Regions from separate parts of the Homo sapiens genome. Here region 2 is linked to region 1. Evidence: fine-mapped expression QTL. A gene starts in region 1. The other region holds a variant in brackets. All regions are shown on one strand. Distances are from middle to middle. Region 1 holds the start of ARRDC4 (arrestin domain containing 4). Region 2 has its middle 74 kb from the start of LINC01582.

Region 1 (2,903 bases):
GAGTAAGAGGCAGAACACTATTCATGTATTGCAGAGCCAATACTACTACACGGTTAGGATACATCATTCAATCACTCAACATTTATTGAGCACTTACTGTATGCTAAGATCTGTGTTAGGCCCTAGAGGTCAAAAAACGAATGAGAACAAGTTCTGTGTTTCAAATGAGTGGGATGGATAATACATAGATAAACACGTAAGGTCACGTTGTGTTATATAAAAAAAAAAGTAGGCAGAGTAAGATCATGTAGGGAGCTATTCTAGACGAAATGGTCAGAGAATAGCAACTATTTCTGAACTTTACACAGAGCCTAATTTGTGACTTTTCCACTTTCTCTGAGAGGTAATAAGGAAATTTTGAACTTATAAAACTTTACTAAATCTCCACATTAATAATCTAAACTCAACGAGGGTAGTAGAGCAACCTTTACTTTGAGGTTTTTTTTTTAGGAAAATTGCTAAATTTCATTGTGAGATTAATCAATACATAACAGCTCACAAACGTGGCATGTCGATAAGGGGACAACTTAAAAGTTAAGAAAATGATGACCAGCTAATGACAGCTATGCAAGATGGTAAAAAACAGAACAGAGAAAAAATGGAAGGTTGAAAAGGAAAATGTAGCAGGACAAGCCGGAGGAAACTTGGGCGTGAGGAACAAGTCATCAAGGCAATTGGAAATTTCTGTGGATATGACAATGATGTCAGGAAACTTTCGGGTGGGGCAGAAACTTGAGTGACAGATGTTGTTCAAAAACAATGTGATTCATGATCTTATTTACAGCAGGAAGAATCAGAGTTCCAGCTATTCCTAACAGCGACACTGCGGAGCTTAGGAGGAGAACTCCTTAGGGGATGTATCAGGTTTAAAACCACAACCCTCATTTTTCTTATCTATGGCTCTTACATGGGCTGGGAATTCTGAAACCTGGGAGAGGCGGTGATCAAAAACCTGGAGGTTAGAAGATTCCAAGTCATTCATTAAAGTCCCGATGCGGCCGGCCCCCAAGATCTCAAAAGGAAATATTGCCGAGTTCCGTTTCCCAGAGCATCTATTTCCCCTCGAGTATTGCAGATGTAATCATAAACACAAGCCAGTTACAGCCACAACTTCATGCTTTAGCGAGAACCCAGTGGCTCCTGCAAAGTCCTTACGCTGCTAGAAACCCCGCCCCCGTTCGTAACTATGGGAACGGCTGACACGCTGAGAGCCGGAGATAACCCTGTTCCGCCCCCTCCCTGACAGATACTGTTTCCCACTGTCTGTCCACATGGGCGCACCGCCTCACTATTGGCCAGGGCTCCAGGACTGTGCCTGGCCTCAGCCAGTAAACGGCCTGTGCACGTGCACGCCGGAGCCTCCCGATTGGCCAACACTCCCTGATCACGCACGGCCTTCCTGCGCCCACCCACGCGTGGGAGCGCCAATGAAATGACTCAGTGACCATCTACAACAAATCAGCAAGAAGCAGGGCTCGCAGCTGACCAATGGCCGCCCGCCGGGGGTGGGCTGTCCCGGCCCTTTTCCAGGCCCAACTGGGTTTGTTAAAGCGACAGGCCTCTCGGCGAGCCGGTGCCCCATCGGGTACCGCACGGCTGCCGCGGCGGCCTTACCCTGCCGCGAGCGCCTGTGACAGCGGCGCCGCTGTGCTCGCGACCCCGGCTCCGGGCCTCTGCCGACCTCAGGGGCAGGAAAGAGTCGCCCGGCGGGATGGGCGGGGAGGCTGGGTGCGCGGCGGCCGTGGGTGCCGAGGGCCGCGTGAAGAGCCTGGGTCTGGTGTTCGAGGACGAGCGCAAGGGCTGCTATTCCAGCGGCGAGACAGTGGCCGGGCACGTGCTGCTGGAGGCGTCCGAGCCGGTGGCCCTGCGCGCGCTGCGCCTGGAGGCCCAGGGGCGCGCCACCGCCGCCTGGGGCCCGAGCACCTGCCCCCGCGCCTCGGCCAGCACCGCGGCCCTGGCTGTCTTCTCGGAGGTGGAGTACCTGAACGTGCGCCTCAGCCTGCGGGAGCCCCCGGCCGGTAAGCGCAGGCGAGCGCCTGGGGTTCCCCCGCCAGGCTGCGGGGCCGGGGAGGGGCTGGGAGGCCGCGCACCCTCGGGATGCCCACCTGGCAGGTGAGATCAGGGCGGGCTTCCGGGGGTGGGGTCCGGCCTACCCTCGCGGGTAAGGAGAGACCGCAAGTCCTGGGTGCGCAGCTCTTCCTGGCGCCCCGCCCCTGGCCCGCCGGGCCTGACCGGGACCAGTGGCTCGGGATTTTCTAGGACCGCGACGGGAGGGGGCCATTGGGTGCGGTGGGAACCTGTGATTGGACAATGGGGGATCCAGAAATCTAGGTCCTGTTCCTTCTGGTCCAAGAAAGGGACGGTGGAACCGGCGGCTATGAGGTTCCATTCTGCGGTGCCCGTGTCCTATGGCCTCCACTCCTCCCTATCCTGCATACGTTCTTGGTTCATGATGAATTAGCAGAAATTTGGTTTGGGGAATAGGGAAGTAGTTTCTGAGGGGTAGGAGTTCAAAGGAAGTGTTTTCCAGACTTGATCATCATGCTTGGTTTCCCTCTTCTGGGGAGCAGGGCAACTTAGTAAGAGTTGTACCTCTACCTGATACTGCTGCTGTTTCCTCCGCATCCTCTTCCTCCCCATCCTCCTCCTCCCCTCCTACCCGCTTCTTCCCCTCTCCCCCACTTCTCTCCACTCAAAATGCCTTTAGAGACAAGAGCATCAGGGCGTGTCGGGATTTCCCTTCCTGCTCACTTTGGTGAAGTCCAGTTCACAGTGTAGACTTTTCCAGAAGTACCCATGTGGGGACACACTACATGAGCGTTTCATTAATATTAGATACCAAAATTGGATCCCTTTAGTCACGAAAATACTAAGAACCATGAGTCTTACTCATTTCATGGATG
Region 2 (2,903 bases), 200 kb after region 1:
ACCTGGGATGTATGGTATGACCTATTGCTCCTAGGCTACAAACCTGTAGAGCATGTTACTGCACTAAATACTATGGGCAATTGTAACTCGTGGTATTTGTGTATCTAAGCATAGCATACAGTATTAAATCTTGTGGGACCACCATTGTAAATGTAGTCTGTCGTTGATGGAAACATCACTATTTGGCACACGACTGTAATGCTACAAATAGTCTCCAAGCAAAAGAGAGCCTTAAAGACCCTCTAGCCTAGACCCCTGAATTTACAGGTTTGAAAAAAAAAAAGGTGGCAGTCAGGTAAAGTATTTTCTCCAGGTCTCTCTGTTCTTTAGAGCTGGAAACAACAAGATTTCCCAGCACACCAACTGGGCTACACACGGATCTCATCAGCTTCTGCCTCAGACCCCCAGGAGCTACATTTGTGAACCAATACGTTGCACTTAGGGCCACTGATCAAGCAGAGCTGACATCTTTGACTCACCAAAGGCTTGGGCCATGAGAGGAGCAGGTAAAATTGAAAGTCATCATCGAACAATCCCGGCTTCCACTAGGCCCCTGATTTCTTTGAACTTTTTTTCAAAAGGCCGTCTTTTATTAAATGGCTTGCTCAGACTTAGAGCATTGCAGTGGGGCAAGAATAGGAATTGGGTTTGGAAAGACAGAAGTTCTAATCCTGGACATTGTACATTCCGGGGCTTGACCTTGGGCAAGTTACTGTGTCACAGGATCCTTAGGGTGTTGCTTTTCCAGGTGGAAACCTATGTGGCTGGTGGTACCTTTCCTGAGTTTGCCTGGGCCCACTGCATTCATTCTGCCCACTTGTCCCTGCAGGCTGCACTTGGCTTGTGCTACCAGCCTGGATCCCATACCTGCCAAGGGTGAGCCAGGCATGAAGTGGCAACAGGTATGTGAGCAAGCATGAGGTCCAGCCACTGCATACAGCCAGGCATGCCAGCTACAGCGGGGCAGGCAGCTCCAGGCACCAACACAGGCACCAGCTCCTTGCAAGGCTGTGACTGGACCAGGTGTACTGCAGGTGGCTTCCACTGCAGGCATGAGGGAATGTAGTGGTTCCCAGAAGCTTGGAG[G/A]TGCCAGGAACCACAGAGCCCCAAAGAGGGTGTCAGCCCTGGGTCAGGGAACCCCTAGGGCTGGGCTCCCCAAAAAGCTGCAGTACTTCTCCTCATTGCCTGCAACCTGGCGAGCAGGGGATGTGTTTCAGCCCTGTTTGTGCTACAGTTCTTTCAGTCCTGCCATTCAGCAGGTCCCAAGATCTGGTCTAGAGTCCAGGAAGAATGAGGAATATGGATAACTGGAGGGTGAGCAAGGCGTAGAGGAGCTTCATTGAGCAACAGAACAGCTCTCAGGAGACCTGGAGTGGGTAGCTCCTTTCTGCAGGCAGGTTGTCCGAATGAGTGGAGGAGACCTGGAGTGGGTAGCTCCTTTCTGCAGGCAGCTTGTCCGAATGAGTGGAGGAGACCTGGAGTGGGTAGCTCCTTTCCACAGCTGCTAGTCCTGATGTGTCTGTGAGTCTGGCTGAGTCCAGGATTTTTTTTTTTTTTTTTTTTTTTTTTTTTTGAGACGGAGTCTCGCTCTGTCGCCCAGGCCGGACTGCGGACTGCAGTGGCGCAATCTCGGCTCACTGCAAGCTCCGCTTCCCGGGTTCACGCCATTCTCCTGCCTCAGCCTCCCGAGTAGCTGGGACTACAGGCGCCCGCCACCGCGCCCGGCTAATTTTTTGTATTTTTAGTAGAGACGGGGTTTCACCTTGTTAGCCAGGATGGTCTCGATCTCCTGACCTCATGATCCACCCGCCTCGGCCTCCCAAAGTGCTGGGATTACAGGCGTGAGCCACCGCGCCCGGCCGAGTCCAGGATTTTTAAGGGCTTCAGAAGGGAAGAAGTGCATGCCGATTGGCCCATGGGCAGCCACGGGCAGGCCAGAAAAAGCACCATAAGTTCTCACTCTGGGCCGCAGACTTCACCCAGAACTGACAGCTGGGCCCCCATACTTCAGGCCATCCCTGGCTTGAAAGTGGTGCTTCACCGGGACCTGCCCCTTTCTGCTGAGAAGCCTGTCTGCCTCCTGCCACCATCAATCATGTTGTCCATGGTGCCCAGGCTGTTCCTGCGGAGGAGCTCCTGCAGGCCCCACCAAGCCACCCTCAGCCCCTGTGGCCTCCCTCCCGTGCTCGATTGCACCCAAAGTCCAAATGGAGCCAAAGTAGCATAGGGCTGGTGTGTCAGCACCGCCCCAAGCGCACGCAAACCTGGCCGAGTGGCGATAGTGCCCAGGCTCAGCCTCAACTTTACTCGGAAATAGGAGTGGGCGCCAGGAGCAGGGAGAAGCCAGGAAGCGGGAGCAGGCACTTCTGAGCCTGCGAAGACAGGGAGGCTTCCCCGGCTCAAGAGCACAGGGATGCCTGGGTCTGCAGCCTCGGCTCTCTGTTGCAGTTGTGCCTGTGAGGGCTGGGTTCCCACCCCACCAACTCAGAAGGGGCCAGGGCTCCCGCCTGTTCCCAGCTCCTGCTGGCTGCATGGAACTGCAGCCCTGGCCACGCCTCCCTCCACTGCAAGCCGCATCTTCAAAGCGGCCGCTCCAGACAGGCTGCCACTGCCATCAACTGGGACACCCCGAATGCTTACCCGAAGCAGAGAGATTATAATAACACAGCTCTACTGGGACAAGTAAAAGCAGACATCGTTTCCTCTACATAATCCAAAATTAGAACATTTAAAGTGTAAGAACCCTGAATTCGTGTCCTTTTTCTGCTACTCATTAGCCCTCTGACTTCAGTTTCTCCTTTTTAAAAAATGGGTAAAATAATGTACCTCCCAGAGTTAAAATGAGGTAACTTGGACCTATGTGTTTTACGAGGGTCTTGGCATGTGGAAGATGTTGAACACCC

Evidence for each region. PIP is the estimated chance that this variant, and not a neighbour inherited with it, causes the effect. A credible set is the group of variants that fine-mapping cannot tell apart.
Region 2: its variant is the best candidate, but not a certain one, in a credible set for the expression of ARRDC4 in whole blood (INTERVAL, PIP 0.60).

What each region holds. Positions count from the first base shown.
Region 1 is chr15:97,959,151-97,962,053 of GRCh38, forward strand. ARRDC4 (arrestin domain containing 4) reads left to right here and starts at 1,553. Exons shown (of 8, transcript NM_183376.3): 1 at 1,553-2,018. The coding sequence starts at 1,712.
Region 2 is chr15:98,161,328-98,164,230 of GRCh38, forward strand. No RefSeq gene overlaps it. Among named protein-coding and RNA genes, the nearest start is that of LINC01582, 74 kb to the left of the region's middle. The variant G/A (reference allele first, on the strand shown) is at 1,087.